2 linked regions of the Homo sapiens genome follow. The protein of the gene in region 1 interacts with the protein of each later gene in a pairwise test. Each region holds a gene or a part of one and is shown in the gene's direction. Other genes may lie near its edges.

Region 1 (7,860 bases):
ACCAAAACGCAAAAACTAAATTAAACAAACAAAAAAAGCAAACCAAAAGCCCAGGAGAATCTCTCTGCTTATCTGAGAGAGACAGGCCCTGGATTTTGTAAGTAGCTGGAGTAGTAAAATCTTTCCAATCTTCTTATCTTTTATTTTCTTGTATCTCCATGCTCCATGAACGTTGACTGCATTGCAATCAGGAATGTTGGATGCTGACTTCTTTGACTGACTGCCTCATTTTTAAAAATTTTCTTTTTTTGTTTTTGACTGCCTCATTTTTGTGTATAAACCTAAAACTTGGGAATTATGATCCCAGTTATTGCCATTGTCCTTTTTTTTTTTCTTAACAGGTAGCTTCTTCCCAACTTCTTCTTTGCCTCCTTAGCAAATCTTGACTGTTTTTGTTTTTTTTTTCTTTTTTTGAGATGGAGTCTCGCTCTGTTGCCAGGCTAGAGTGCAGTGGCGCAATCTTGGCTGGCTGCAACCTCTGCCTCTCAGGTTCAAGCGATTCTCCTGCCTCAGCCTCCCGAGTAGCAGGGACTATAGGCGCATGCCACCACACCCAGCTAATTTTTGTATTTTTAGTAGAGATGGGGTTTCACCATGTTGGCCAGGATGGTCTCTATCTCTTGACCTTGTGATCTGCCCACGTTGGCCTCCCAAAGTGCTGGGATTACAGGCATGAGCCACTGCTCCCGGCCACAAATCTTTACTTTTTTTTTAATTTTTGGCCAATTTTTTATTGAAATATATACAGAAAACTGTACAAATTGTAAATGTATAGCTCCCTAAATTTTCAGGAAGTAAAATGGCTTGTTTTACAGCTCTTTTTTATTGAGGTAAAATTTACATGTGCACACCTTAAGTGTGCAATTTGATGAGTTTTGACAAAAGGATATAACTATGTAACTCACAGCCCTTGGAAAACTGAACAAATCTGACAGCGTATTCTACCCTCACCTCTCTTTATTTTTTGGCAAACATCAGAATTTTTTAGGGTTTCACATTCTGCTTATCCACCTACGTACCCAGCTCCACCTATACAAAATATTCCTGAGGTCTATTTTCACTGGACAGAAGTACAAATTAAAGGGCATCTTCTCCCTCAAGGATCAATGAAACAAAATCTCACAGAGTATGGTGCTAAGTGGATCTCACTGTCTTCACTTCTCATTGAGAGAGTTCACAGGCAGAGAATAAAGAGGTGTCACTAAAGGACTATTTCAGAACATAGTTACTCTTCTGATGTTATGTTCAGCCTACTTATAATTTTTATGACACCTGTGTTAGTTATCAATTATTTTATAACAAATTACTGTGAAACTTAGCACCTTGGCCAGTTGTGGTGGCTCACGCCTGTAATCCCAGCACTTTGGGAGGCTGAGGCAGGCAGATCACCTGAGGTCAGGAGTTTGAGACCAGCCTGGCCAACATGGTGAAACCCCATCTATACTAAAAAAAAAAAAAAAAAAAAAAAAATTAGCCAGGTGTGGTGGCAGGCAACTGTAATCCCAACTACTGGGGAGGCTGAGGCAGGAGAATCACTTGAACCCCGGAGGCAGAGGTTGCAATGAGCTGATATCATACCATTGCACTCCAGCCTGGGGAACAAGAGCGGAACTTCGTCTCAAAACAAAACAAAAACCTTAGCACCTTAAAACAATGAACATTGGTTTATAGTTTCTATGGGTTAGGTATATGGGAGCAGCTTAGCTTAACCCTAAGTGAGGGTTCTCACTCCGGATCTCAAAAAGCTGTTAAAGAGTGACGGAGCTGCCGTCCCCGGAAGGCTGGACTGGGACTGAAGGACCTGCTTCCAAGGTGGGCTCGTTCACATGGCTGTGGCAGGAGGCCTCGCTTCCTTGCTAAGTGAACCATTCCCTACGGCTGCTGAAGTGTCCTCAAAACATGGCAGCTAGTTTCTCCCAGACCCAGTGATTCAGGAGAGTGGAAGATAGAAGCCACAGTGTTTTTATGACCTAGCATCAGAAGTGACAGATCATCACTTCTGCCATATTCTATTGGTTTCACAGACCAAACTTGATACAGTGTGGGAGGGGGCTTCAAAAGGGAATGGATTCCAATGGGGAGTGATCACTGGGGACCATCTTGTATTAGCCATTTAGGTTTATCAGAAAATTCAGTCAAACCAAGTGGCAACAATTATCAATGCCTTTACTCCTATAGGGTGTGTCAGCTATGGGAATAAGTTTTCTAATTCTTTTTCATTTATCATGTTCACTAATTGAATATTATATACTTAGAACCTCATTGAAAAGAAGGAGAATTCTCTCAAATCTAGCTCATCAAATGTATGTTTAAGGACTAAATTAAGGAAATAATGGTACTATCTTATGGGTTCATTCTCAAGACAGAGAAGATATTTTTCTATATTCTCTTCACTTTTGCCAAGGATGTCCCCTCTTTCTTTCTTTGAGAATTCTTGGCATCACTAAATAATCCACTTGTGAATGCTGAAGGAGAGATTCAGGCTTTTGTAACCATTTTTGGGCTTTATCATATACAGATGCAGGTTGTACAATGTAACCATGATTCTGAGGCTCACATATAGCCAGGATTTTGTAGATTTTATACATCTGCCACGGAAAAGAGGAGAGGATTTTTTTTTTTTTTTGAGACGGAGTCTCACTCTGTAGCCCAGGCTTGAGTGCAGTGGCACGATCTCCGCTCACTGCAAGCTCTGCCTCCTGGGTTCACACCATTCTCCTGCCTTGGCCTCCCGAGTAGCCGGGACTACAGGCGCCTGCCCCCATGCCTGGCTAATTTTTCTGTATTTTTAGTAGAGACGGGGTTTCACCATGTTAGCCAGGATGGTCTCGATCTCCTGACCTCGTGATCCACCTGCCTCGGCCTTCCAAAGTGCTAGGATTACAGGTGAGAGCCACCGCACCCAGCCAAAGAGGAGGGATTTTTAAGTGATTATTCTTATGGACAAGGAGGTAAAGTTTCTCCTCTACAACGTCTTTCTAGGGCATCTTTTTGTTGCTCTGTAGCCTGTGTATTTGACCACATACATAAGTCTTGGTATTGGCCAGGCATGGTGGCTCACACCTGTAATCCCAGCACTTTGGGAGGCCAAGGCAGGCAGATGACTTGAGGTCAGGAGTTCAAGACCAGCCTGGCCAACATGGTGAAACCCTGTCTCTACTAAAAATACAAAAAAAATTAATGAGGTGTGGTGGCATGCACTTGTAGTCCCAGCTCCTCCAGAGGCTGAGGCAGGAGAATCACTTGAACCCCAGAGGTGGAGGTTTCAGTAAGCCAAGATCGTGCCACCACACTCCAGCCTGGGCAAGAGAGTGAGACTCCATCTCAAAAAAAAAAAAAAAATCCTCTCCTCTTTTCCATGGCAGATGTATAAAATCTACAAAATCCTGGCTATATGTGAGCCTCAGAATCATGGTTACATTGTACAACCTGCAGTCTCAAAAAAAAAAAAAAAAAAAAGTCTTGGTATAGCTCTAAATGAGTCTCATTAACATTTTGTATATAGAAGCCAGCCTTTTTTGTTGCCATAGGCATGAAAAAAACCAATGATAGTCTGGGTGCGGTGGCTCACACCTGTAATCCCAGCACTTTGGGAGGCCGAGGCGGGCGGTTCACGAGGTCAGGAGATCGAGACCATCCTGGCTAACATGGTGAAACCCCGTCTGTACTAAAAATACAAAAAAATGAGCTGGGCATGGTGGCAGGCGCCTGTAGTCCCAGCTACTCGGGAGGCCGAGGCAGGAGAATGGAATGAACCCGGGAGGTGGAGCTTGCAGTGAGCCAAGAGCACACCACTGCACTCCAGCCTGGGTGACAGAGCGAGACTCCGTCTCAAAAAACAAAAAAAGAGAAAAAAAAACAATGATAAAGTCAAGCTGAACTCTCCACTGGTTTATTAAGGTTTCCCAATGTGGTCAACCTGTGAAATGTTTTTTTATTTCTGAACAAATGTTCAGTTGTCTTCATTTTCATTTCTGAGTTCTCTTTATCATTCTAGGACACAAGAATCAAAATGAGATAGATACCCTTCAAGAAGTAAGATTAAGATTCCTTTCATATGAAGACCTTATATGCTGGCAAATATGGGAACAATTTACAAGTAAATTAACCAGTAATCAAGACCTAATAATAAATCTTCAAGGCAAGAGGTCCAAGTTGCTAAAACAAGGTGATTCCCCCTGTCAGGTGTGGACAGGAGAATCTAGTCAGGTCTCTGAAGATGAGAACTATGTAATAAAGCTACAAGGGGAGAGTTCAAATAGCATAAAAAATCAAGAGCTTCCATTGAGGACCACCTGGGATTTCTGGAGGAAAATGTATCTGAGAGAACCACAGAATTATCAGAGTAGGTGTCAGCAAATTGATGTAAAAAATAAGCTCTGTAAATGTGATCATTGTGTTAGGCAAAGAATTGCTCATCAACATGATGATCATGGAGTACACAAAAGAGAGAAAGCTTTTAGCCACAATAATTGTGGAAAAGACTGTGTGAAGGAATCATCCCAGCATAGCATAATCCAATCAGGAGAGCAAACCTCTGATGAAAATGGAAAAGGCTTAAGTGTTGGCTCTAATCTTGAACTTCACCAGCAACTACACTTAAGAGACAAGCCTCATGTAAATGTTGAGTACGGGAAGGGCATAGGTTACAGCTCAGGGCTTCCCAGGCATCAGTGTTTCCACATAGGAGAGAAATGCTATAGGAATGGTGACAGTGGTGAGGGCTTCAGTCAGGGCTCACATCTGCAACCTCATCAGAGAGTCAGCACAGGAGAGAACCTCTACAGATGTCAGGTATATGCCCGGAGCTCCAACCAGAACTCCTGTCTTCCCTCTCATGAGCTTACTCACCCAGGAGAGAAGTTGTGTACATGTGGCAGGTGTGGGAAGGGCTTCCATCATAGCTTAGATTTTGACATTCACTGTGTAGACAGTGCTGGAGAGAGAGCCTGTAAATGTGATGTATATGATAAAGGCTTCAGTCAGACATCACAACTTCAAGCCCATCAGAGAGGTCACTCTAGAGACAAGACATACAAATGGGAAGTAAGTGACAGGATATTTAATAGGAATTCTGGTCTTCACCAGAGAGTTCACACTGGAGAGAAACCATATAAATGTGAGGTATGTGATAAGGGCTTCAGTAAGGCCTCAAATCTTCAAGCCCATCAGAGAATCCACACTGGAGAGAAACCCTACAAATGTGATGTGTGTGATAAGAACTTCAGCCGTAATTCCCACCTTCAGGCCCATCAGAGAGTCCATACAGGAGAGAAACCCTACAAATGTGACACATGTGGGAAGGACTTCAGTCAGATCTCTCATCTTCAGGCCCATCAGAGAGTTCACAAAGGAGAGAAGCCATACAAATGTGAGACATGTGGGAAGGGCTTTAGTCAGAGTTCGCATCTCCAAGACCATCAGCAAGTCCATACTGGAGAGAATCCCTACAAATGTGATGTGTGTGGGAAAGGCTTCAGTTGGAGTTCACATCTTCAAGCCCATCAGAGAGTCCACACAGGAGAGAAACCATACAAATGTGAAGAATGTAGGAAAGGCTTCATCTGGAACTCATATCTTCATGTTCATCAGAGGATCCACACGGGAGAGAAACCCTATAAATGTGGCATGTGTGGTAAGAGCTTCAGTCAGACTTCACATCTTCAAGCCCATCAGAGAGTCCATACTGGAGAGAAACCATACAAATGTTTTGTGTGTGGTAAGGGCTTTAGTAAGAGTTCGTTGTCTTCAGATTCATCAGAGAGTCCATGATGGTGATGAATCTATTAATCATGATGAGTGTGATAGGGGTGCTCTTCAAGACTTAGACTTCCCATTTTCCTCAGAAAATCCACACAGCACAGAATATTTATAAAATGTCATGTTTTAAGAATTCATGAGCTGAGTTTTTATAGTTATCTGAATTCCATTGAAGAAAACCTATTTTTGTATGAATATGACCAGTTTCAAGCAGAGCCCAAAATGTCACAGTTGTCAAGAGAACACACAACAGAGAAACCCTATAAAGAATGATACAATATGTTTCAATCAGAACCTTCACATCCAATAAGCAATATGCAGGAGTGAAGCCTTCAAAATGATAAGTAAGGTCAGAATTTAGCAAAAGTATAATGAGGGACATGACAAAATCTGTGTCCACTAGAATCTAAGCTCCATGCAGGAACATTGTTTACTGCTGCATGATCGTGACCTTGAACAAGTACCTAAGAAATAGTGGCTTCCCTGGAATTGTTTAACTTGATAGGAAAAATCTATCATATATAGGACATATATTTGAATATTTTAGTGAGCTCAGCCCCAATTCGTCATTATAATTGTACTGGGAAAAGGATTCTTGCAAGAAGCCTTAAAATGAATTCAAGGAAATGACATTTAATTAAAACACATAAAACCAAGCAGTCTACAATCTGAGTAATGTTTTTGCAATTGGCTTCTGTCCTCAGTTCAGCTTCATTTTCCAAGCAGTATAATAGGCCAAAGTTTCTATCTGATTATTTAAGACTTTTTCCATACAGTGTACAGCTGTGCTATGTTTCTTTGGCGGGGGCTTTTGCTATCTTTCTTTTTGGGAGCTAGTGTGATAGAAACAGACTGAATGAAGAAAAAAATCCCAACTGGTTTTTAGTTCCATAAAGCTTCATGAGAAAGGTTTTGCAAAAAAGGGGAATATCATATGGCATGCATTTTAGATGTTAAACTAAGCTGTTAAGGACACAGCATTTTGGACAACACCCCATACTTCTCAGACATCATTACACGTTATGCAGTGTGTAATGATCAAATCATAGTAATTGGATGAAGGGTTTACTCAGGTGTATATTTAGTGGAGGTGGGAGAAAGTTTCCCACTGTTGTTTTTTTTTTTTTGTCCTGGACCTTACCTTCCAGGACAATGAATACTTAAGTTCCATGATACCTCATTTCATGCTACCATCAGAAATACAGGGCCAATAAATGAAAAAGAAAAAATAAATAAAAAAGATAAAAACAAAAAAAGAAATACAGGGCCAATAATGCTTTGCTTCATCACCACCAGATTACTAGGGTGGGCTGCTGGAGCACATGGTTGTTTAAATCAAGATGTTTTCAATTGTGAGAAATGGAAAATCACACTCCAACTAGCTGGAACAAAATTTATTGGTATGCATATTTAAAAAGAAGAGGCTGGGCATGGTAGCTTATGCCTGTAATCCCAGCACTTTGGGAGGCCGAGGCGGGCAGATCACAGGTCAGGAGTTTGAGACCAGCCTGGCCAATGTGGTGAAACCCAGCCTCTACTAAAAATACAAAAATTAGTCGGGTGTGGTAGTGGTGCCTGTAATCCCAGCTACTCAAGAGTCTGAAGCAGGAGAATCGCTTGAACCCGGGAGGCGGAGGTTGCCATGAGCCAAGATGGCGCCATTGCCCTCCAGCCCAGGGGGCCGGTATGAGACTCCATCTCAAACAAGACAAAACAAAAAACAAAAAGAATACAGGTAGGACAGGACCAGGTCTCGTTGAAACAGGGCTCTGGGTCAATTCTTCTGTGATTCCCTCACCTCTGCCCTTCTGGTTGAGTTGATTCCCACATTTGTTCATTCCAACCTACTGAGGAAATTTACTTAAAGAATAGATGCTCAGTTAACATTCTCATATCACACACTCCCTTTTCTGTGCACTTCTAAAGCAGTTATTTTCGGAACCTCTTTTTGCTCTTAATCATGTAGAGACTTTTCATTTTCCTAAATATATCATACCTAAACAAATAACTCATAGAGGTACTGTGGGTTATGGTTTGCCATTTGAACCATGCATCAACCTTCTGGAGAATCTTTTAAAGTATATACATTTTTCCAGAGTA
Region 2 (4,502 bases), about 31 Mb from region 1:
CCATGAAGCGTTCAGCCTCCGTGCTGGGCCCCAAGGCCCGACGCCTGGACGATTACTCGCTGGAGCGGGTCCCGCCCGAGGAGAACCAGCGGCACCACCAGCGGCGCCGCGACCGCAGCCACCGCGCCTCTGAGCGCTCCCTGGGCCGCTACACCGATGTGGACACAGGTGGGCAGCCCTGTGGTGCTCAGGGACAAGCAGAACAGAGGAGAGGAGAGGGGAGGAGAAGGCAGGGCGGAGGAGACACTAAGGAAGAAGAAAGGGAGAGGCCTCCATGGAGAGGGGACAGAGGGGGCCAGGCAGCAGCTGCAGGAACCTGGGTACTACCCCCTCCCCCCAACCCACTGACCTGCCTCGGTTCAGGGGATCTCTAGGGCCCCCACACCTTCCAGGTGGCCTCCTGTGTGTGCATCTGCCCCACCTCTCCCTCACGACCACCTGTGTGTCTGTCTGACCCTCACCCGGCCCAGGCTTGGGGACAGACCTGAGCATGACCACCCAATCCGGGGACCTGCCGTCGAAGGAGCGGGACCAGGAGCGGGGCCGGCCCAAGGATCGGAAGCATCGACAGCACCACCACCACCACCACCACCACCACCATCCCCCGCCCCCCGACAAGGACCGCTATGCCCAGGAACGGCCGGACCACGGCCGGGCACGGGCTCGGGACCAGCGCTGGTCCCGCTCGCCCAGCGAGGGCCGAGAGCACATGGCGCACCGGCAGGTGGGTGCGGCTGCAAGTGACCCCAGGCTGGGCTCGGCCGGGAGGCGGGGAGGAGAGAAGGGGATACCCCATCCAACAGCCACTCTAGGCAAAGGTCCCCGGATCCCGGCTGTGACCACCTCCCATCCTGCCCCCAAGCCACCGGGGTGCCCGGCGGCCGGAGCGGACACGGATCCCCACCACACCAGCTGCCTATGCTGTCCCCCCAGCCCCCTTGCCCACCCGCCGCCCCCTCCCCGCCGCCCGCAGCTGCTTGCTCCTCGGTTGTGGATCATATTTGAGTTCTGGGCCGTGCCGCCCGACCTTTCACTTTCCTTTAACCCGGCTTCTGTTTTTGTTTCAATTATGATTTCTGTCCTCTGGACGCCTGTGAGTAATTTTTGAAACTTCTGCTATTTTTAACCCCGAAACTTACAAAACTCCATTTCTCATTTCTCTTTTCACTTTGTTGTGTTGGTTTTCGACTCCTCCCCTCCCTGTCTCACTCCCCCTCCTCCCCTCCCTCCTCCCTGTGGCTGTTGCTTTTTTCCATTCAATGTCCTGTGTCCCCCCTCTCCTCCTCCTCCTCCTCCTCCCCCTCCCCCTCCTCCCTCTCCTCCCGGCCCCTCTCCCTTCGCTCCCCTCTCTTCCTCCCAATCCCGTGTCTCCTTTGATTTTGTTGTATCTTTTTTTTTGATTTCCTTTGTTTCAATTTTCGTGTAGGGCAGTAGTTCCGTAAGTGGAAGCCCAGCCCCCTCAACATCTGGTACCAGCACTCCGCGGCGGGGCCGCCGCCAGCTCCCCCAGACCCCCTCCACCCCCCGGCCACACGTGTCCTATTCCCCTGTGATCCGTAAGGCCGGCGGCTCGGGGCCCCCGCAGCAGCAGCAGCAGCAGCAGCAGCAGCAGCAGCAGCAGGCGGTGGCCAGGCCGGGCCGGGCGGCCACCAGCGGCCCTCGGAGGTACCCAGGCCCCACGGCCGAGCCTCTGGCCGGAGATCGGCCGCCCACGGGGGGCCACAGCAGCGGCCGCTCGCCCAGGATGGAGAGGCGGGTCCCAGGCCCGGCCCGGAGCGAGTCCCCCAGGGCCTGTCGACACGGCGGGGCCCGGTGGCCGGCATCTGGCCCGCACGTGTCCGAGGGGCCCCCGGGTCCCCGGCACCATGGCTACTACCGGGGCTCCGACTACGACGAGGCCGATGGCCCGGGCAGCGGGGGCGGCGAGGAGGCCATGGCCGGGGCCTACGACGCGCCACCCCCCGTACGACACGCGTCCTCGGGCGCCACCGGGCGCTCGCCCAGGACTCCCCGGGCCTCGGGCCCGGCCTGCGCCTCGCCTTCTCGGCACGGCCGGCGACTCCCCAACGGCTACTACCCGGCGCACGGACTGGCCAGGCCCCGCGGGCCGGGCTCCAGGAAGGGCCTGCACGAACCCTACAGCGAGAGTGACGATGATTGGTGCTAAGCCCGGGCGAGGTGGCGCCCGCCCGGCCCCCCACGCACCCCACGCACACACCCCACCCGAGGAGCCGCGCAGAGGCCGCGGGGGCCCAGCACAGAGGGCCCGGGAGAGGGCCAGCCGGGAGACCCCAGACTCTGGAGAGGCCAGGGCTGGGCCACAAGGGTGTCCCGCAGAGACCCTCGGCCAAAAGAGACCCTCCTGGGCAGCCACGGCGCCCCCCAACCAGCCCCGATCCCCCCACCCACGACAGGGGCTCTCGGGTGGGAGGCAGGGAGCAGACAAACCACACAGCCAAGGGATTTGAATTAACTCAGCCATTTTTGGAGAACTTTGGGGAACATGAAAAAAAAAAAAAAAAAAAAAAAAAAAAACATTTTTAAAAGAAAAAACGGGGAGAAAAAAATAGCTTCTATTGATGAGTTTTATCATCTCAATTGAATCTTTCCTTTCCCTGATGAAGACAGCTGGTGGCCGAGTGCGGCAAAGAAGCCAGAAGGAACCAGAATCCCAGTGCCCTACACCCACCACCAGACACACTCACACCCACACACGTTCTCAGACACACACAAGAGTGCTTGCCGGTTATACCAAACCCTACTATTACTGCCTGCAGAAATCAATTTAAAAAAATAATAATAACAATAAACAATTTTAAAAAGGACAAAAAAATTAATGATTGAGAAAAGAGGCATTTTTTTCTGACATTTGGTCCTGCTTGAAACAACAAAAGAAGAAGAAAAACCCACCATCACCACCGATTCCTTTGCTTCTTTTTTCCTTTTTTCCTACCTTGTTTGAAAACCGTGGGCTTGGGACTGTGAATTATTGCATGACATTCAAAAAGAAAAAAAAAATAAAAAAAAGTTGAATCAAAGGGCTTTTGGATAGGAGTGGTCTTTGTCCCTTGGCTAGGTGCTGCCTGGGTGGGTCTCTCTTGGGGAATCATACAAAGAGGCACTTCTTTGTTAGCTCCTAGAAGCACTGTTTGAAAGCGACAAGGAGGCCGGGCATCATGCACGCCTGTAATCCCAGCACTTTGGGAGGCTAAGGCAGATGGATCACTTGAGGTCAGGAGTTCGAGACCAGCCCGACCAACATGGCAAAACCTCATCTCTACTAAAAATACAAAAAAAATTAGCCATGCGTGGTTGCACAAACTGTAATCCCAGCTACTCCGGAGGCTGAGGCATGAGAATCACCTGAGCCTGAGAGGCGGAGGTTAGCAGTGAGCCAAGATCCCACCACTGCACTCCAGCCTGAGTGACGGAATGAGACTCTTGTCTCAAAATAAAAAAAAAAAAGGCAGGGCGCGGTGGCTCACGCCTATAATCCCAGCACTTTGGGAGGCCGAGGTGGGTGGATCACATGAGGTCAGGAGTTCACAACCAGCCTGGCCAACATAGTGAAACGCCGTCTTTACTACAAATACAAAAATTAGCCACGCGTGGTGGTGGGTGCCTGTAATCCCAGCTACTCGGGAAGCTGAGGCAGGAGAATTGCTTGAACCCAGGAGGCGGAGGTTGCAGTGAACCAAGATCGTGCCACTGCACTCCAACCTGGGTGACAGAGCAAGACTCCATCTTAGATAATTAATAATAATAATTTGGTCTCGTGGACACCAACCCCCGCCCCCACGAAGTGTTTCAGCCATCCCCAGAGTCCAATACCCCTTTGAGAGCTTCTGTTCTCACAACAGTACCTGACCCATAGCAAGCTACTATTGACTATCACCATTACTACTGTAGCATTAAGGCAAACATTTTGAACAGGTCTTGTTCCAGACAACAGGCCCTGCTTGAGCTTACCTTGGGTAAGAAATCTGCAGACTCCAGATAGCAAGACAGGTGTAAGTCCTTCTAAAATAATGGTAAGCCAAATGTGGTGGCACACACCTGTAGTCCCAGCTGTTCAGGAGGCTGAGGCAGGAGGATCACTTGAGCCCACGAGGTCAAGACCAGCTATGATCACACCTGTGAATAACCATTGCATTCCAGCCTGGGTGACGTAGAAAGATCCCATCTCTAAAAAAATTAAAAGTAAAAATAAATAAATAAAATAATGGCATCTAGGAAAAGATCAGTCCAACGAGAAGTCAAAGTTTTGAGGTCGAGTGCGGTGTCTGACTCTTGTAATCTCAACACTTTGGGAGAATCACTTGAGGCCAGTAGTTCAAGACCAGCCTGGGCAACATAGCAAGACGCTGTCTCTAAAAAAAAAAGTTTGTTTTTTTTAAGGCTGGGTACAGAGGCTCACGCCTGTAATCCCAGCACTTTGGGAGGCCAAGGTGAGCAGATCACCAAGTCAGGAGTTTGAGACCAGCCTGGCCAACATAGTGAAA

The links. Proteins that work in one complex are often made in the same cells at the same time.
Region 2: the proteins of ZNF233 (region 1) and CACNA1A interact in a two-hybrid assay, tested with the Homo sapiens proteins (one study listed by BioGRID and IntAct).

The regions. Positions count from the first base shown.
Region 1 is NC_000019.10:44,268,902-44,276,761, forward strand, and holds the end of ZNF233 (zinc finger protein 233), read left to right. Parts: intron 1-3,997; coding exon 3,998-5,772; 3' UTR 5,773-6,416; downstream 6,417-7,860. UniProt on the Homo sapiens protein: May be involved in transcriptional regulation.
Region 2 is NC_000019.10:13,204,978-13,209,479, reverse strand, and holds the end of CACNA1A (voltage-dependent P/Q-type calcium channel subunit alpha-1A), read left to right. Parts: coding exon 1-168; intron 169-470; coding exon 471-724; intron 725-1,426; coding exon 1,427-2,167; 3' UTR 2,168-3,038; downstream 3,039-4,502.